2 separate regions of the Homo sapiens genome follow, and region 1 is linked to region 2. Evidence: fine-mapped expression QTL. Tissue or cell type: esophagus muscle. Region 2 holds a variant in brackets; the other region holds the start of a gene. All regions are shown on one strand. Distances are from middle to middle.

Region 1 (9,565 bases), 40 kb before region 2:
TAGCAGGGACTTGGAGACTTTTGGCCTGTATGGGATATCTGGTTTAAGTTACTTAACTTCCCAAAGCACTGATTCGATTTAAAATACTCCTCCCACCTCTTAAAGTTATGAACATTAAATCACGCATGACAAGCTCTAGCGGAACATGTAGTAAGAGCTCAGTAAATGCTTTACCATTGCTGTTAGGCAAAGACTGCATTTGTCTTGAAAGTTTTAATCCTCCGTGGTATACCCGAAAACCCTCTCTTGACTGGATTTTTGCACCTTTGAGAGATTCTGGCCCTAATCCCTTCCCCTCCCAGAGGAGTCACTGGCTCCCCGCGCCCCCGTCACGCCTGGACGACTGTACCCAGTCTCGGACGCTTTGGAGGTGCTCTGGCACTGGAAGGCCTAGACCGTGGTACGGCGCAGAGTAGGGGGTTCAGCTCTTTTCAGCCCGAGGTGGGCTCTGTTTGGCTTCTCAATCCTCACACCCCTACAAAGGAGGGCCACGCAGCTGGGGGTGGGTTAGAAAAAGGGGCTGTAAATTTGGGGGCGAGTTCCAACCAATGAGGAGACGGGGAAGAACCGAGGCATCTTGGGGTGCAGTGTTATCCAGTGCCTTCCTAATCCCAGGGTTCGTCTCCAGGGCACTAGTGACCTAGAGAGAATCTCCTCAAGCGGAATCTGCGAGATTCGTGCAGTCGATTATCCTATCCCCTCGACCGGCTCCATAAAACGGTTCTTAGGAAAAACTCGATTTTTTTTTTCCCATGCGGGAGGGAAATGCAAAACCCAGGTTAATGCAAAAACCTCAGTGCCTTTCCTAGCCATTAGTTCACAGGCACCCCCGCCTCCATTCCAGGGTTCCAGTCCTCATCTCTACCCGGAACCCCACTCCCTGTCCCGGTGCAGGCAACCCGGGGAAGCCTTTAATTCGGCCGCCACCTCCCACCTCTGCAGAGACTAATGCATTTTACATCTCCTGAGCGTCTGTTTGTTCGCTATGCAGCTGTTGGGCTCGAGAGGGTGTAGGGACTAGAAACTCCTAGTGACCTGCAGCACCGAGCGCCTCTTGCCTCGCGGGCTGGTTTGCAAACTCGGGAAAAAGCTAGGTTCTGGGTCGCGATGTGCAGACACAGGAAAACTGCACCAGGCCATGCAAAATGAGCCCAGAAAGGTACTTTGGCAGCTAGGACCTGGGGAACGCGAGCTTCCCCCCTCAAGCCCCCCGCCGGTGCCAGCTCCCGGGTGCGTGCGAAATGGCTGGCGGTCCGACCGGAGGAGCATGGAGGCGCGGGGTTAATGCGCCATTCCAAATCGCGGTGCCCGCCAGCAGGAAGCCACAGAGGCACTAGATTTCCCTTCCGTCTTAAGAGGGTTTTCCCTTTTTTCCTGCTTGGCCGACGGAGGGCTTTTTAAATTGGACGTGGAGATCCTCAATTAGAAGTGTGGCGAAGCTGGCAAAAGACTACACAGTGGAAAACTCCCCGCGTCGCCAGAGGAGGCTCCCGGCTGCGGTTCCCGCCCTCGGCCGAGCGCCGCCAGCGCCCGGATCGAGCTCCCCTCTTCCCCCGGGACAGGGAGGGCGCATTCTTCCCTCTGAGCGCCGCCGGGACCGGCTCCAGTCCGAGGGGCTCTTTCGTTCTCGGTATTTGCTGGGCGGGGGAAAAGGGGGGAGGTTGGGGGACTCGGCACACACAGCGTCTACTAGGACGTTTTTCTTAGAGTCCGTGTGGGCTCCACCCCTCGGCTTCTCAGTTTGTCTCTCTATCGCTTTCCCAAAACACATCTACATCTGCCCGACGCGCTTCTCCTCAACCATGGGCCTTTGCCCGCGGTGCAAACTGCTTTACGCGCCGCCACGTGCGAGAACCAAGCTCTGCTCCTCAAGTGACGGGGGCTCTGCTCTGCCAGGTGACCGCGCACCATTTCTCGTGCCTGGCAAGCTGGTCCCCTTCTGGGTCCGGGACCACCACGTCCCGGCAGGGCAAAAGCAGCAGGCCGTGGGCGCCGGCACCTGTGGGTCCCCAGGCCTGGGGAGGCAAGGACGCCCAGGAAAGCCACAGAAGTGCTCGCAGAAGCAGCCGCTCGCCGCGAGGCACTTCTGAGTTCCCGGCAGCAGGGGGCACCAGAAACCGTCTGAGCCGTGTCGCGCCCACGCGGCCCGGAGGCTGTGTTATCATTTTAGTTATAAAACCGGAGAACCACCACTCCCTCTACGAGCCTCCCGAAATCCCATTAGCCCGGGAACCTGTGGAGGTCCTTACTGGCATCTCTGCTTTTCAGGCTCCCACCCCTCCATTCTCGCTGGTTTTCCTCTCCCCACTTCACCTGAGCGGGTTTCTTGGCAACCTGCTTTCAGACCATCCCTCACCCCTTCCACGCGTCACCGTGACAGATTCGCAGGAGGCAGCGCTCCCGCCGTCAGTGCCCCCGCACCTTCTTGTGCCTGGCAGGCTGGGAGGTTTGTTTGGGCTTTGCCTTCAAGATCCAGGTCTCAGAGAGAGAAAAAGGAGGCGGTGGGGCGGGGAGACGGGTTTGCTATAAACTCGGTTTTTTTTTTTTTTTTTTTGGCGGGGGGAGGTAGAGACAGAAATTGCTGGAAGATCTATTGCTTTTCTTAACTATGCTTCGTGTCCTTGACTGACAGAGGACTTATTCTCCCCTCAACCCCCCATAACTGCGGGGCCCAAGATGAGGGAAGGAAAAAGAATTTGGGACACTTCTCGCAGGCAAACTGGGAAAGCGGTCTGTTTAAAGGGCCAGGTTCCAGGCCCGAGAGCACCCGAATTGCTAGCGGGAAAGGGCTAGGGACACGGCGGACTTCCCAGAGATCGGACACTTGTTACTTGTTGAAAAGGCGCCACCTTCCCTGACAAAGCGAAGGCGCAGCGAAACAGTACGAGTTTGGTCGAGGCCGGCTTTGACGGCTTTGCGGGACTGGGTGCGTGAATGAGGTTGGAAGAAACATCTCTTCCTTGAAATACCTAAGCATATATTCCAAACACTGAGCAAGAGTCGAGCGCGTTCTAACATCTCCGCAGCAGGGGCCGGAAGAGTTGCCTTTGTCCCCGCCTATGAGCAGAAGGGTCGCGAGCTCTGGGATGGGTAAGCCCCCCGGGGGCGCGCACATGGGTCCTGGCGGCGGATTCTACCAAAGCCGAAACTAGCTGGGCCCCAGGAAGCTGGCGGGAACCCGCGAAAGTCCGTTTCCAGCCCGAAGAGGGTTCGTTTTTCTTCGTTGGGGCAGGAAACAAACCACCAGTGCGGAATTAGCCTCGAGGTGGTGTAAAGTAGTGGCAGTGGTGGTGGGGTGTTTTTGGAAGGCGGCACAGAGTACAGGAGAAAAAGGGGTCATTAAAATAATAACCTCAATGGCCTAGTGGAGTCTCAAGAATACGTTCGAGACAGAGATTTGAATCCAGGACTGGCAAGAAAGCCCCTCTCCTAACCTCGACGGGGATGGTTAGTTGGGGTGGAGGGCGTTAGGAACGTGCAGGCAACCGGGTGAGGAATGTAGCTTTGCCAGACCTCGCCCGGAGGAGGTGAGCCCTCCATTTTTAGGTTCTCAGCACCTTTGCAGCAGCCCCTCCCCCGGCCTGCGCTTTTCCTTGGCACAGATCAAAACAAGCTCAATAGTAAGTTGCACTCTTGGCAATGATAGTATCTCTGCACGTCCAGAGAGGACACATTTCGACGGCGGTGGGTTCGAAGATGACCCAAGCCCTGAATCGTTCTGTGACTTGACGGAAGAGCACCTGGCCGAGTCGGGGAAGGAAACTGCCCCTCTTGGGCATTCCGGGTCCAGGCGCATCTGGGGCTCCACAGATCTTTGCCCACGTGGAAAAGGCAACATGCCCCTCCGAAAGGCCGGCCTCTCTCCGGTTCTACTTTTCTCTCTCCTCGCATAGCTTAGGTTCCCTCTAGTCTTTCCACTTTCTACTCTCACCGTTTGCTCTGGGGTCCAGACGCACCCCTCTGACTAGGGCGCCCTTCAGCCGGCCGCACCCACCCGCGACGCAGGCACCACCCGCTCCCTGCTCCCCGGCCCGCTCCCTCACTTACCTCGGATCGGGTCTCCGCAGACCCTAGGTTGGACATTAACTCCAGGTGCCCCAAGTCCCAGCCAGGAGACCCATCCGGGCTGATGGCTGGAGCGCGGAGCCCCGCCCAACAGGTCAGGGGCAAGAGTTCGCAATCCTGGGGTCGCGCGGGGCAGCAAGGGCGCGCTGGAGGCGGCGGCCAAGACTCCCGCCGCCGCCGCCGCCAACAGGGCGAGGGCTGCCGGCAACTCTCCCGCCGGGCCCCCGCACCCCCAGAAGCCGAGGTCCGAGCAGCCGCCGCTGCTTTGGGTGGGGGGCTGACAGGGCTGCGCGCGTCGCGCTCTTGGCTGGGGCTGCGCGGGCCCGGGGCGCTGCGGGCGGCTCAGCGGCAGCTGCCGCGCTCTGCGCCTCCTCTGGGCGCACTGCCTGGGAGCACGAGACTGGTTTGTCTGATGCTGCTGCCGGAGCTGAGGTCTTGCCTGGAGATCCGAACGAGACACCACGTCAACCGGCGCGGGGAGTCCCGTGAAGACATGAGGGCGCCAGGAGCGCAGGCTGGTCTTCTAGAGCCCGGGCTGGGGGTCCGGGGTCCGGGGTGGGGGAGGGGAGGCGCGGGGCCCCGGGAGGGAGGGGTCGGGAGGCGTCGGCTGGGCCTGGCGGTGGGGGAGGAGAGGAGAGCAGCGAGGAGGCCCTGGAGTTCCCGAGGCGGGGGGCCGGGGTGCGAGTGGGCGACGCGAGGCGCCCCTCCCTGGGCTGCAGGGAGAGCGCTGAGAGCGCGGAGACGCCGCGGGGCTAGCGCCTTCTCCTCTCCGGGTGGATCAAAAATCGAGAGGAATGTGCGGCGCTCTGCGCGGGCCAGCCGAAAGGGGCAATCCGAACTTGACCGCGGCGCCCGCGCCGGGCTTTGCCCCCGCGCGCCGCACTGGGAGGGTGGCGCTCTGCCGGTGCAGGGCAGCGCCGGGCTTTCCTCGCGCCTGTCGAAGGCCGGCCTTCCCGCTCGGGTGTCTCGCCCTCTCGCTTCTCCGCAGGGCAGGAGGCAGTGGCGAGAAAAGGAGCTGCCGGCCGGAGTTCTAGCACCGAGAAGGAGAGGTGCGGAGCGGCCGGGTGAGGGAAGCCGAGTATTTGCCAGGGGACGCTGCGAGTGGGGATGAATTTATAGGGCTCTCACTCCGTGACGTGCCCTCCAGTGGCTTTTCTGATTCGCTTTCTGACCTAAACACACATTAGTTTAGTCCCCATGCTAAGGCCAACACGGTCTCCAAATATCTGCTGGCTGAAGTCAGAGGCTTTGCATATCATGTATTACATGGCAGGCAATGAAGAAGGCTTCTGAGGCTGGCCGGCTCCTCAGTCCTAGGCTCCATTTTCATGCTGTTGTAATCTAATACCAGACATGGGGCAGGCACATACATTCAAAATCCCAATTCCAGAGGCGTAAGATCACTTTATCAGGAACGGGTTAGGGGAGGTTGAGCTAAACCTGCTTTTATCCAGATTTTCGAAAATGCAGATGGGAAACTTCAGCAAGCGCCCACTTGGATGCTGAGTTTCCAGCGATCAGGGGCCCGGCCCCCATTCCAGAGCTCTGTGGATGGGAGAGGTGAGACCTTCTGGGCATTCCTTTTGTTGGTTAGTTCACCACCAGAAGCTGCCTGAGCCTTCTTTTGTAGAGGACAGGAGGAGGGCAAGTCCTTACACACCCTGTGCATGGCTATAACCATAAATACATTTCATTCACATGGGGCATGGAATTGGCTGTACCTCTAAAATAATGTACTAAATAGGGCATGTCTTTGCTAAGCAGAAACCTGTTTTCCGGAAGCCATTGGACCTGAATTCAGTGGGACCTCTTTTATTTTATTAGCTGGGGCCAGGGAAAGTGTAAACAGGCTCAGTTTACGTCCATGTACCTCTTATTTTATGACTCATCCGGTTGTTGGGGAGTATGTGTTCTTCAAGTAGCTGATACAGACAATAGGCAGGGGAAATGCGTGTGGCAGTGTGGGGGGAAGATCATGTATTATTAAACTTCTTAAAAGTCAAAGATCAGCTACTTTGCAGGTTTGTCAGTGAAGCGAGTGTGGGAGGAAAATTGTTCTTACTAACGTTGCTGTGATTTAAGATTAAGCGAAGTGAAAATCGAGTCATCAAAACATACCTTAGCTGAAATTAGGATGCTCTCTGGAGTTCTGCAGAAAATGACATTTCCCTCTTTGATAGATTTATGGTAGAAATGTAGTTAGATTCAGAAATTAGAGGGCAGAATAAGCTTAATATATTTATTGCCGTTTAGCATTGTTTTTGGAATTTGAAGACGACCCTCATCAATGTTCTTACTCTGAATGATTTCTTTATTTTTAGAGGGCTTTTTGCTGGGGATGATCAGCCCGTCCAAGCACCTGCAAATATCTAGCACTTGCTGTGTGCCAGGCAAAGTGCTAGGCCCTGGGCATTGTGCTGATTGGGCTTTTTTTTTGGGCGGGGGGCGGGGGTTGCAAGGAACAGATACCACTGAGGTTTACCCTCAGTAATGGGAATTTACTGTGGAAGGAAGGCTGACCGGAATCTCCACCATTCCGCCACGTGTCTCCGAAAAGCCTTCCGGAAAGGCCACCCAGCCAGGCCTCATGAAAACTGGATTGAAGTTCAGGAACTGGAAGGTCATTCAGGATACAGCTCTGTGACTGGGTTATCTCGCTGCCCCCTCAGCAGCAGGCATCTGCCGATCCCCACTAACGGCTTAGCCGCCAAGGTGATTCAGCTCCTCTCTCGCTGTTTTCCCCTGGGTGTCCTTTGGCTTCTGCTCCTGCTACCAACTGCTCAGCTCTCAGTTGATCTCACATTTAAACTCCTTTAGTGAAAGGATCTAGTTTGTCCTGCTAGGGATTCACCAGGGGTGAGAGTTGGACTGAGCCTTTGTATCAGTCTCCTTACAGGTTGCAAAACACCCTGTATATCCGCAGACCTGGGGGCAGGTGCCTATCCTGGGCCAATCATTCATGTCCAGGTTGTTGGCATCACAGAGTACACAGCCTGGCCACCTTTGCTTGAGATACTTCCTAGAGTTCCTCCCCACATTCCCTCCACAGAGGATGGTCCCTCAGAAGGAGGTGGGTTAATGGTAGGCACTTTGGGTTTTGACAGTCCTCTCCCAGCCCTTCAGAAACTACCACTACAGAGAGGGAGATATGCTCATGAGTATTGATGGTATAAAGTGATAAATACTCCAACAGAAGTATATATGAGACTCATGTCCTGGAGTCTGATTTTCACATGGCCAGTGAAACACTGGGGAGATTTCAAAAAATACCCAGACCTGTAGGCTGGAAGTGGTGGTGGCTCACACCCGTAATCCCAGCACTTTGGGAGGCTGAGGTGGGTGGATCACTTGGGGTCAGGAGTTTGAGATCAGCCTGGCCAACATGGCGAAACCCAGTCTCTACTAAAAATAGAAAAATTAGCTGGTTGTGGTGGTGGGCACCTGTAATCCCAGCTACTTGGGAGGTTGAGGCATGAGAATTGCTTGAACTTGAGAGGTGGAGATTACAGTGAGTAGTGATTGCACCACTGTACTCCAGCCTGGGTGACACAGTGGGACTCTGTCTCAAAAAAAAAAAAAAAAAAAAGTCCCAGACCTAGGCCTTGTTCAGGGCAATTAAATCAGAATCTCTTGAAGGGTGGAGCTCAGGAGTTGATTTTTCAGATGCTCCCAGGTTAGTGAATTGGCTTTATCTTTTCCCAGTGGTTGCAATCATCTTATGATTCTTTTTGAAAGCAAAATGAAGAAGCCCTATTTTGATAGGTTCTAAGACTAAGACTCTTCCAAAACATTAAATTCCTTTCAAAATACAAAGTATCTTAAAACAGTAATATAAAGGAAAATGTTAAATTTAATTTAGAATTAAAGCAAATATTTCTAATTTTGAAAGAACATTTATTTACATGGCTACAGCATACAGATGAATTCAGCAAAAGTTCCTTCTGAAGTGACTGCCTTGAATAGAGTTAAGATGGGAAGCAAACATTTGGTGTCTTGGGAACAAGGGGATGGCCTGATGTCACAGTCTCACGCCCCCATAAGCTGAAAGTAGGGAGCCCCACAGCTCCGAGGCTCCAGCTTCTCTGTTCTCAAGGAAACGGAATAGTTTGATTTGAAGCTGTTCCTCAGCGAAGTCCAGAAGGGAAGAATTTGCAGCACCGACTCTGCTCTCAATAGGCAGAACATCCTCTGATAAAGCAACAACAGCAACATACTGCTAAGGATTCTCACATTGTCCCCAGATCTCAGCTTTTTATCTAGGAAGCCCTGCCTGAGAATCAGAGAGAACAAACATTGTTCAAGCCTCCCATCTCCTCTTTGAGAAAAAAGGTTCGAAGCCCTGCTAATTTCCTATTTCATCGCTATCGTCCTCTTCACTGGGATTTCTTGTGAGTCTCTAACTGAAAGTTGTCTAAATGATCGGTGCAATTTGTGCCCAAGGATCTTACAGTCCTTGGGAAGAGAAAACACAACCATAAAATGATGAAAAATAATACAGGGTATTATAAGGTTATGGAACTCAAACTAGCCCTTGATTGGAGTAAGTAAGCAGAGAGGAGGTGGGGGTGAGGGGACATTCCAGGCTGGCTGAAAGGGTCGCTGGAGGAGACTGGATGCTAGGTACTGCCACATTCTTGCTCAGCCTCTGTGGCCCTGTAGGGCTGCAGCCTGTAGACGTGATGGGGTGGGTGGGTCAGCTTTTGGCCATTCACAGAGTCCTTGGCGAGCTCCCAGTGGGGCTTTGCAGCTGCTTTGACTATGAGGGCCAGGACCCCGGTCCCTGGACTGCCTCATAACTTGGGTCGTGAGGACTGAAACAGAATCCATCACTTAAGCAGAGCAATTTCCTTTTCAAAGTCACAGCTTTATTGGACTGCGATTTGTTCCATGCTTGCTTGCTTTTTAACAGCCATTTTCACGAATGATCCTATTACTCATGAAGGAAAGATAGATTTGCCTTCAGACCACTTAAAAAAAAGTGAAAAGAAAAAAAGAAAGGGGAAAAATTCACTGTAATGGCCTTTTTGCAAGTAGTGGGAAGTGACAAATTCTTTGGAGTAAATCGTTTCTCATAAGAAATCAATCCTGACATTGGCAAGGGAGATTTATCAGTGATTTCCAGCAGTTTCTTTCATTAGGATCAAATTGTCTCATTGTCCACTAATTTTGTTTTTGGCTCTTGAAATTACTTTGTGAAATTTCTCTTTTCCAGAGATAAAACTTCAATCAGGTGAGAGTGTTGCGGCAGACTTTCTTACTATGCAAATGGTCTGATGGCTTAGGTCTGGGGTTAGCAAACATTTTCTGTAAAGATAGTAAATATTTTAGGCTTTGCAGGCATACTGTCTCTGTTGCAACTTCTCAACTCTAGCCTTGTGTTGCAAGAGCACCCATAGATGATATGTAAATGATAATATAATTTTTTCCATGTTATGAAATACTTTTTTGATTTTTAAATGTAAAAACCATTCTTAGCTCATGGACCATACAAAAGCAGGCA
Region 2 (11,415 bases):
ATGCATGTATAGATGCATACATATATATGTATGTGTATATATTTAGTGAGTGTGTGGTTGTATAAAGTATGTGTATACATAAATACATAAAATATTTGTATACTTATACATATATATTATATATGTAAACAATATGCATATATACACATGCAATATTTTGCTTAGTGGTTATAATGATGACTCTGAGAAGAAAAGCCTCCTGTTTTCTATTAGTCATTCTGTTTATAGTAATAACAATAATACTTACTGAAACAATTTTTATGTGCTAGGTACTGTTCTGTTTTGTATGGTTAATTTATTTACTCTTTCTACTTTCTGAAGCAAGGACTATCGTTATCCCCGGAAGCAGAGAGAAGTTCCCTTTGCCCAACATCACACTGCAAGCACGTGTTGGAGCTGAGATTCAAACCCAGGCATCCAGGGTCCAGGGCCCATGCTTTTAATATATTCCATATCTTAGGAGAATTTCCCCTATTTAAACAATAAAAGTGCAAAAATCTTGTGGCTAGCCAAAATTTTCAGTTGTTTGGAAAACTTATTTATCCAATAAGTGGAAAACTCACTTGTCCTCCAACAATTCTGGATAAATGAAAGAACGAATTGAACTGAGACTGGAATCCGGGTCTCCCAGTACTTTGTAGTTCCTATCCATATGGCTTGTCAGGAAGGCCACAGGGAGGTTAACTAACTCTGCGTAACCAGAAACAATCCCACATCAGACTGTTGGCAGTGGGAGTGGAACACTCAGAGCTGAACCGCATGCAAGATGGTTGCATTTTCATTTGCAATGTCGTCATCTTCCTCATGGCTAAAGAGGTATTTTGGAGTTGACATGAAGGCTACTGTAATTTTTAGAGGCATTTTCTTTCTGGCCTGTATTTACATATTGTGGTAGAAGAGTCAGAAGACTTCAAGCTTCAAAAGTGAATCTTGTTGCGAGTTACAAAAGCACCACCCGGTGGGGTGCAGCTCTCAGCATGTGTCACCACAGGCACTGTGATTTCCCTGTCTTCATCCAACTTTGGTTGCTGTTCTTCATGCTCAGGAATTCTGCAACTGCTGTAGCTTTTGCTGTTGTTATGTCTGTAGGTATGGACTCATTTCTACCATTCTGGAATGAAACATTATTTCAAGGGAAGCTTCTCATTGTAAAAGGTCCACACATTCAGAAGGAAACTGGGAGTACATTTTCTCATAGGCCTGGAGCATTAACTGACTATGCATCTTTCCCCTCAGTGTTGTCATCATGTTGTAAGGGGATGAGTCATGGACAACATTTTCACACACATACGTGAGGTCCATTGACCAGTCTTTAGGACAACTAGAAATCTTTTCTTTCTTTGTTTTAAAAAGGAAGACAAGTCAAGATACAGCAAATAAAAATGCTCAGCACATTTGCTGAAATCTTAGCAAAATCAAATTACTAGTAATTTGTTAATCACACTATACCTGTTTTGAGCCAATCCTACTTAACCCACCCTCCATCTTCCTCATGCTTGCCTCCCTGGTGAACTCCTATTTATGTTACAAAGCTCAGTGTTTATGTTACTACTTTTGTGCTATTTCTGAACGTTAAATGTACCTCTATTATAGAACATATCTCATGGAATAGTTATTATTGCATATCCACTGCCCTTGTTAGGCTGTGAGTGAGCTTTCTTTCTTTCTTTTTCTTTCCTTCCCTCCTTCCTTCCCTACTTCCTCCCTCCCTCCCTCTCTCCCTCCCTCCCTCTCTCCCTCCCTCCCTTCCTTCCTTTGCTCCTTCTCTCTTTCTCTCTTTTTCATTTCTTTTCTTTTTTTTTAAATTTGAGACAGGGTGTCACAAATATGAATGGGACCTGTGAATATGATGGCTGTCACTCTCTGATTAGATTACATTATATGGCTAAGGTGAAGGAATTCTGCAGATGTAATTAAGGTCCCAGATGAGTTGATATTGAGTTACTCACAAAGGAGATTATACTGGATGGCCCTACCTTAATCAGGGAAAAGCCCTTAAAAGAGGACTGGGCCTTTCCTGAAGGAGGACAGTCCACTGCTGGCTTTGAAGCAGTAAGCAGCTGTGTTTTAAGGGGGCCTATGGAGGGGCCCATGTGGCAAGGTCCTGAGGGTGGCCTCTAGGAGTTGGCAGCAGTTCCCAGCCACTGGCTAGCAAGAAAACAGGTGGTTCAGCCACATAGCCACAAGGAAATGAATTCTACCAACAATCCAAATGAGCTTGGAAGTGGATATTTTCCATGGTCAAGCCTCCAGACGAACACCTTAACTGTAACATATGAACAGCTGAGCAGAGGACCTGCTTCAGCCATGCCTGGACTCCTGACTTGTGGAAACTGAGATAACAAATGTATATTATTTTAAGCTGGTAAGGTTGTGGTAATTTGTTATGCAACAATGCCGAATACAGTAGGCATCTTAAATGTTTGTTGAACTTAATTTAATCAGGGAAATATAATATTTAAAAGGAATCTTTTCTAAAGTTTTAGCCAATTTAATGAATGTAGATATCTTAAAGAATTGCCATCTTCCTTTGGATCTTCTAGCCATGCAATCGACTTCACAAACTTCCAAGTTTTCATAAATACCAGCTTCTGATTGTCTGGAAACAGGAAGTGAGATTCTCTCCAGCCATCATTTGGCATTCTTGGGAGATAGAATGGATAAAAATTGATGTTGAAATGAGACCACCATCATTTTTCAGTCTGCTCACCACGTACAGAGCTCAGGATGATTAGAAAATGTAAAACACATGTGAGTGGCTCAAACCCCTTTAGTTAAATCACATTTACATAGATCAGTTTTCCCAAGGGATATAAGTTAGCTGAACTTAAGCAATTAAAAAAAATAAAACTAAACTAAAACCTTTTGCTAAAGCCAAAAAACATGGATGAGTTAAACTGTATCAGATGGAATGGTTTGTTTTGAAAAGTGTTTGGTTTGTTGTCTATATACGTGCGTGCTTTTTTAAAAGGCAGATAGAAAAGCAGAACTTACAAGACCTTTAGCTGCTGAGGTGGAAAGCCAGTATTACTTCTACCACAGCAGTTGATATCATCGGTCTCACCAGCAGGTCACGGATTTGTTGCTTGCTCCCTGTGACAATCTTGAACCATTGTAGGGACCTTGGCATATAGAGGGACGGTGAACAGGGCTGAAAACAAAATTGAACTCAATCTTGAGCTTGGTATTCCACCGAGAGCAGGTTTTCTGGGCTTTGAAATACCGCCTCAGAGAGACCTTCCTTGATATTCTGCCATGTTGAGAACAAGAACAAACTTTTTGGCCCTGGAACCTCTTCCCTCCCAGTGCCAACATGTTCAATTTCATTTGCCCTTGGCTAAATGTAGCTTCCTGTTTCTAAGAAAAGAAGCAGAAAGGGGCTTTTGAAGGCCTCACAGACAGTCTCAGAAGGCTTCATGGGCAGCAGACAACTCTTAGCAAACAACAATTTGATGAGTTAAGTGTAAACGGCTCAGAGACATATGGATTACATTTTTTGGGAAATACACATGGGCTTACAATGTAAAACTGGGTAGTGTGGGGTGGGGTGGAGAAGGGAATGCTTGGAAAAGTGTGGTTTGGGTCTTGCTAATTGCAAAATATTTGAAACAAATAATTTGAGATGTTTTGCTCAACGTACAGCGCGGTTGGATTTGCCCTTTCCATCTATTTACGTGTCATTTTCAGATTCGGCTCACATACCAATACTGGTTTGGGTCTTGAGTTGATTTTTAAAAATGCAGTTATTTTGAAAGGTCATGCCATGTGATTTCTGTGTAGCCTCTGAGCATAAAGGGTGGGGTGGTATAGGGGAAGAACTGGGCATTTAGAAACCTCTCTGCCTGTAGGTCAAACTGCTGCTCAGCTCTTCTGGTATATTCTACTTATGGAGGTTCCAAATCCAGGCTGTGTTAGTAAGATGCAGCAGCCTCAGTCTCCCCACCTGTAAAATGGGGACAGTAATACTTATCCCAGAACCCATGGCGATTGGGATGCTGTGTGGTGTGGAGTTAAAGTGTGGACCCTGGAGGCATATACCTGTGCATATCCCAGCTCTGCTGCTGATGTGAGCTTGGGCAAGTTCTTCAGCTTCCCTGGGCTTTTGTTTCTTCATCTGTGTAATGAGGAATATCTTAGCATCCACCACATAGGGTTACCTTGAGAATTAAAAGATTTAACCCAGTCCCCGGCACACAATAAGTGTTCAGCAAATGCTAACAGTGGCTCTTGTTGTTTATAATTTATCTTGTTCTATTAAGTATATGAATACAGTAGATAATAAGGCAAATTCACCTCCAGGCTGGGGAGAGGAATAGCCCCTTACCAAACAGTGAGGGTCTCCTTCAGCTTACCTTCTTTTTCTTATTGTTTCAACCTATGGATTAATTACCTAGTTTTGTGACCCCAAAATAAAAGGGTAGATTCCTTGATCTAAAATTAGACTCATCTTTTCCCTATCCTAGGAAGGATCCGTTTCTCTCTTCTATTTTACCACTGTCTAGCACCTGGAGACACTTGGTTTAAGAGCCCAGCTAGTTTATACTAGAGTGTGAGGGAATTCTGAGGGCTCAGGTGGAAGGAAAGCATGATTCCAGAGTGTTGTTGGGTTAATGCATTGCTTCTCAACCCTTCCTGCACATTAGAATGAATTGAGAAGCATTTCAAAAATAATAGAAATGTTAGTGTGGGGCTTCGGTATTAGTACATTTTTTAACTCCCCAGCTGCTTCTATTGCGCAGCCAGGACTGAGAACCACCCTGGCTAAGGCATTCAGTGGCATTGTAGGTGCTTCCCTGGGTCGTTTCTGACTCGCCCCTTTTAACTCACTGGCCCCTCGGACTCTGATTTCTGCCCTTCATGCAGTGGGAGAGCTTTCCTCTGGGGCTTGCCTTGAGGTCTGCAGGAGCAAGGCCACTTCCTCTCTGAATCCTAGACACAGGCTTTGGGTCAGTACTCCCACCCACGTGGAGCCCCCTTCTGCCCCTCTGCTCTGGGGGATCTTGTCTGAATCCATCCCTTCTTTGCCTGCCTTATGCCTTCTAGCTACTATTCCTCTGCCCTTCCTTTCTTGATCAGCACAATTCTGCTGCTTTAAGTCCTTTTTTCCATTAACCATTGACTGCCCTTTGCTCTGTCAAACATAGTTTTGGAGGCTGTGTAGTGTAGTGAAAGAACAGGGAATTTGAGGTTGGACCTGGGTTTAACTCTCTCCTTGATTGCTGACAAGTTACTTAACCTCTACTCATTTGTAAACTAGGAATAATCTGACCTGGATGAGACTGCTGTGAAGATGAAAAGAGGTAAAGGAGGGGTGATGGTGTGGTAGTGGTGGCCTGGTGAGAATGACGGTGGTGGAGTGATGGTGATAATGAGAATGATGATAATGGTAATGGCGGTGTTGCGGTGAGGGTGTTGATGTGGTGGTAGTGCTGATTTTCGTGGCAGGTGATGGCTATAGTGATAGGGGTGGTGGTGATGATGGTGGTGGTAGTTGTAATGGTGACTGTGATGGTGGTGTTGATGATACTGGTGATAGCAGTAATGGTAGTGATGATGGTAATGATGGTGTTAATGATGGTGGTTTGATGGTGGTGAACATGACAGTGGAGGTGGTTGTAGTAATGATGATAATGATTTGGTGGTGGTGGTAGTTGTGGTGGTGGTGGTGATGGTGGCAGTGGTTTAGTGGTAAAAGTTCAGTCAAGAAAGAAGAAAGCTGGAGGAACCAACAGTATTCTGATCAGAGGAACCACATGGGAAGCATTGACAGAGGGTCTTTGCATTTGCTAAGGCCATGGGAGTAGCTGGTTGTATCAGTTAGCATTTGATCAGGAAATCAGAGCTACTCTGTATGACACGGAATAAGGGATTAATCATAGGGATTAAACTTACCCATTATGAAAACTAGTAAAAAAGTCTAGGCAAGGCTGTTGCCTCTGTATCTGGTGTTGGGCTTGACGTTTCTTTGGGTCAGCAGGGCTTACAGATGGGACAGAAAGTGGATGGAAAGGGGAGAGCAAGAACAAACTGGACCATGTCTCTGACTCTCACCACCTGCAGTGGTAACACAGTGACCTGCAGGAAAAGCCAATGCCTCTCATCTCAGGCCTGGACATGCACCTGGGTCAGGACTCTGGGCTGGAGGAGACCCAGGGAGCCGGAGGTACTGGAGCCCTGCTCCATCAAGGTGAGGCAGCAGGTCTGAGATATATGTGAGCTGCTGCTGCGCCGGGTCCCTAATTAAACCTCCTGAGTGGAATGGCTACTGCTTCCCTTCTGCCTTCCAATCTTCTCACAGATTTCTCTTGTTGCCAGCTTTAATCTGGAACCATAGAGGAAGGAACTTTGGGAAATGTGGTTCCTGCTTAGTTCTGGTGGCACAGCACAAGTCACTGCCGAGGGGTCCCCATGTGGATTGGATGGGTTAAAAGCTTCAGCACCTGTAGTGGCCTGTGCAGTCTACTTGCTCTGACATTTCAAGCCTGGAGAGGCAAGGGGGACAAGAGCTGAGCTGAGGGCCATGCCAGGGAACTGGACAAGGAAGGCCTTGGCACTCTCAAGTCAGGGAATAGCCTCGCCATTTCATCTCATCCCCAGATGCTGGAGTGCGTTGGTCTCCCTTCTAACCTCTAACCACTGAAAGGGACCCTCTGTAC[A/T]ACCAATCCTTGACTTTGGAATCATGGGCTGAGTAAGGCTGAAACATTTAGCCGTCTTTGGGACCCCAGTATTTCCCTAGTCTCACTCTAGTGTCTCTTGAAGTGGCTGTCTTTCAAGGTGTTGACCCTACTCCCTGTTTCTAACATCTGCCTGCTACATAATCCAGCTGGACTTCTCAGGTATCCCTGGTGGCTGAACTCCTTAGACCAGGGAGCTCCCCTAGTGCCTCTAGTGCTGACAAAGTGCCACTTTGCAACAGTTTCTGCCCTTTTCCCGGTTCTCTGGCTTCTAAAGCCTTCATTTATCCACAGATAGAAATACAATCAATCCCATCCTTACTCTTTCTTTTGACAATTTTCTTCATCAGATATACACTTAGAATTTAACTCAACTGTGTTCTCTCCTATTTTGTCGGTCACTGCTGTAACTTACATGGAATCATGGTTGGGTGGCAGGGACTGAAGTAGTTAGTTCTCACTTATTTACTGTGAAATGAATAGTTTGAGATTCGGTCAGTAGTCAGAATGGTATTCTTCACTTCCTCCTTTTCTTTATTTACTATGCTACCTGGTTTGTGAACATTTTCTCCAGCTGCAAGCAATTTACACAAACTGTAAACTCTTTATCCATTATAATCCCTGTAACTATGCCTAGAGACTGGAAAATGACCAGTTGTCATTACATTCGGAAAAGCATAGAAAGGATCTCCTTACTTGTGGCCCTACACCTGGTACTTTTCAGATAGTAGATGAGTTATTAGGATGATTTGCACCTCAGTTTTCTTATCTGTAAAATGGGAGGGTTGCCTTGCATTTCATGCTGTGTTCTTTGATGCCCTGGGGGATTGCCGGATTGCCAGAGGACTCATTGGGAATTTGGGGATGGGGAAGAGCATGTGTCTAGAGGGCCTTCATCCCTCATTCAACTAGCAAAAAGCCACTTATTCTGTGTTATATATTTGGTTTCTATGAGAGATTGGATTATTGGTCAGCAATAAAAATCACTCCCTTCCTTCTTCCTCTTGGAGCAGACCGTAACTCCCCTGTTCTACTGACTTTGGGCTTGGCTATATGACTAACTTTGGCCAATGAAATGTGGGAGGATGTGATGTGAATAGAGGCTTTAAATGTACTTGCATGGTTTGGCTTACCTCTTGTACTCTTCTGTTTGCTGTGAGAATATGCTGCAGGGAGCCACTGGTCCAAGGAGAAGAAGAGGGGTGTAGAACAGACCTAAACCCAACCTGTAGCCTGAAACAGAGCCGAGTCCAGCCTAGATCCACTTATAGTCAACCTGTTGATCTGTTAGCACAAAAACACATGCTGCCATAAGCTGTTGTGTTTTGTTACACAGCTATAGCTGTCTAATTCAGCTTACAAATAAGTTTTGTCCATAATCATATTTTTTGGTTTAAAAAAGTTTGAAAACCACTGGGTTTGCTGAGTTTTCAGCTTTCCCATCCACTTCTACTGTCCTGTTTCTTTCTCTTTGTGTATTTAGGAAAGAGAGGGAGAAAGAAAGGGTTTTGGAAACAACACAGTCTGGTAGAAAGAAAGAAAGGATAATTTTTTTCTTTTGAGGAAAGAGGGACTTAGGGAGCTGGGAGGAGAGATAGGCACATTCATAGTTAAAGTATGTTTTGTTTCTTTTTTGAACCCTCAAGTAAACATTTCTCCACTGACATTGTTTTGCACTGTTACATTATTTTGTTCACTTTAGTGTTCCATTTGTACAACCTCTGAAATTCCAGGAAGAAGGTGAAAGAATAACATTGCACATAGCCCTGGGTTGTGCTGTGTTTACTTCATGATGGACCGTTCACTTGGGCTTAACCTTAAACTGACCTTTCTGATTCCAGACGAGACAGCAAAGCTTTGCTCACAGATTCAAAATCAGGGAACAGAAACAGCTGACTTCCCTGGCCAAGGATGTTTTCCATTCTCATTATTTTTGTCCGTGGTCACAAATGAGATGCTAGGGAAGTAATTTTTAGGAATTCCTGGAGTACTTTACTTCTGATGTGCATGCACAGATACCCTGGGGTCTTATGCAATTGGTACCCCACCCCAAAGTCTGGATATATTCGTTGTAGGATGAAGAGAGGGAGGAAGGAAGGAGGACTGAGGAAGGTCTTAGGCTATTTTCAAGCTCTTTTTTGCTCCGCACTTTGCAACATGGTTTTATTTTATTCTTATAAGTTTTGAGATCATCTCAAATATAAATACAAAACCATTGATCAAAGGCCAAGAATAAGAAATATTTAGATGCCCTCTATTGCAGTGAAAAAGCAAATGGTTGCTATATCATGCGTAAAGGTAATCTCTTCAAGGATTAGCACTTTAGGTCAGATCATGGAAGCCTGGTTTTGTTTCTCAGAAAGAGTGTCTTTCTGGGGCTTGGGAGGCCAACACGAGGCAGGCTGAGCTTTGTCTATGGCAGGAGCTGAGTTTGAGTCTATCTCTGCCATTAGCCTGTGCTCAGGTTGTGTCCCTACACTGATGGCCATCAGAATTTGGGTATCAAGTGATTCGCTTGCTTGTACTAGATTGAGCTCCTTTGAGGACAACAGGAGCCATTAATATTTTAGAGCCAGAGGCCAGGCATGGTGGCTCACGCCTGTAATCCCAGCACTTTGGGAGGCTGAGGCGGGCGGATCACAAGGTCAGGAGATCGAGACCATCCTGGCTAACATGGTGAAACCCCATTTCTATGAAAAATACAAAAAATTAACTGGGTGTGGTGGTGTGCACCTGTAATCCCAGCTACTTGGGGGGCTGAGGTGGGAGAATCACTTGAATCCGGGAGACAGAGGTTGTAGTGAGCTGAGATCACACCATTGCATTCCAGCCTGGGCGACAGAGCGAGATTCCATCTCAAAAAAAAAAGAACTTAGAATCTGGACTGGTATAAGCCTTAATTCAAATGCCATCTTTGCCCTGTACAAACTGTGTGACCTTGGGCAAATAACCAGTTCTTTGTTTCTTCACCTGTAAAATGGGGATAATTAGTACTTTTCTCATAGGGATGCTGTGAAGAGTCAAAGATATAATGGTTGTAGAGTGCTCATCACAGAGCCTGGCATGTTGTATCTGCTCATATATGTTAGCTATCACCATCATTGCTGCTGCTGCTGTTTTTATTAATCTAGTCCTGGGAATTTATATCATGGAAAAAAGCCAAAAAAGTTATATGCTTAAAAATGTGTATTGCATCTTGTCTATAGCAATGAGAAATTAGAAACAATCTAAGTGCCTCATTCATTCAGTCAATTTAACAAATATTTTTTGAAGTCCTATTATATGCCAGGCACTGTATCCCACTGTTTGGGGTACATCACTGAATAAGAGAGACAAAGATCCCTGCTTTTGTGATGGAGAATGGGTAGCTAAACTATGGGACAATAATTCAATGGAATGTTATACAGCTATTAAAGCAATAGCAATGAAGACATGGGAAGTTGTTTGTCGTGTCATGTAAAATCAAAAAGCAGAAGAGGAAAACATAGATGCCTTAAAATATATGTGTGGGTGGACAGAGACTAGAATGGAGCATTTAAAAATGCAAGTGGTTGTTAGAGTGATGGAATCATGTTTTTTGTTTTTCAGTAATGTTTGAAGTGGTTTTACAACATTATGGAAAAAATACATATATATGCATAAATAATTGAGAAAAATGAACTGGCCCTAAGAGAAGTTTCTTATGGTTTAGGAATCAAAGTAAGGCTTATAGGCAGAAGAGGAAATTGCCTAGGTAGCAAGGAAGGAAAAATTGCTATTTCAAACCAAAAATGACTGTTGCAGTTCCACTGTGCACTGGAAGCATGGAATTCATGCCAAGGATGTTAGTTCTTTGTTAAGGAAAACCTGTTAAGCAGATGAGTAAAAGAGGCCCTGAAGCCTCTGGAGAGAGGAGAGTTCAGACTTAAACGTCTTTGTATAATAAAGTAACAGAAGATTTCCATTTTCCCTCAGCAGTTTGGGGATGGAAGGGAGAAATAGAGATTCAGAGGCTGGAGAACTGGGAGAAGATGAGTAAAGGAAAGAGCCAGCTAAAGAGGTTGGAAGAGATGAGGCCACAATAGCAACTTGAAGAACACTGATAACTAATACTCAATTTTAAGAGATTCCCTGTCCCAGGAGACCATATGTCTCCCCACTCTTACCTTCCCTCAGGAGTCTCCAAGAGGGCACTGTACCCCCATGGGATAGGGGTTGTTATGGTTTGGATGTCCCCACCCTAATCTCCTGTTGAATGTAATCCCTAATGTTGGAGGTGGGACCTGGTGGAAGGTGTTGGGATCAGGGGGGTGGATCCCTCATGAATGGCTTGGGCCATCCCCTTGGTGATAAGTGAGCTCTGGCTCTGAGTTCACAGAAGATCTGGCCATTTAATAGTGTGTGACACCTGCCCCCACCCCTCTCTGTCTTGCTCCTGGTTTCACCATGTGATGTGCAAGCTCCCACTTTGCCTTCTGCCATGAGTAAAAGCTCCCTGAGGGCTCCCTAGAAGCCAAGCAGATGCTGGCACCATGCTTCCTGTACAGCTTGCAGCACTGTGAGCCTGAAACTTTTCTTTATAAATTACTGACTTTCAGGTATTTATAGCAATGCAAGAATGACCTAACACAGGGGCTTGGGTCATTTTGTTTGGTTATTAAAAGAAGGCTGATGTCATAGAATATTCAGGGTTCACCTACACAGGGGGGATCTGAGGGGTCAGAAGCTACCTGTTTCAAATTGACTGCTTTTGGGGCCTGAA

Alleles and levels. Alleles are on the strand shown, and positions count from the first base shown. SD is a standard deviation of normalised expression in the study named.
With allele T in place of A in region 2, the expression in esophagus muscle of the gene that starts at base 4,425 in region 1 is lower (small effect, 0.16 SD a copy in GTEx).

Evidence for each region. PIP is the estimated chance that this variant, and not a neighbour inherited with it, causes the effect.
Region 1: GDNF-AS1 starts here. The variant in region 2 is fine-mapped to the expression of GDNF-AS1 in esophagus muscle (GTEx, PIP 0.97).

What each region holds. Positions count from the first base shown.
Region 1 is chr5:37,835,460-37,845,024 of GRCh38, forward strand. It overlaps GDNF-AS1 (GDNF antisense RNA 1), which reads left to right and starts at 4,425. Exons shown (of 4, transcript NR_145476.1): 1 at 4,425-4,579. It overlaps GDNF (glial cell derived neurotrophic factor), which reads right to left and starts at 4,582. Exons shown (of 3, transcript NM_000514.4): 1 at 4,048-4,582. RefSeq lists enhancers at 689-1,627, 1,979-2,048, 3,506-4,443.
Region 2 is chr5:37,874,380-37,885,794 of GRCh38, forward strand. GDNF-AS1 (GDNF antisense RNA 1) reads left to right here. Exons shown (of 4, transcript NR_145476.1): 4 at 322-1,420. Among named protein-coding and RNA genes, the nearest start is that of GDNF, 40 kb to the left of the region's middle. The variant A/T (reference allele first, on the strand shown) is at 6,657.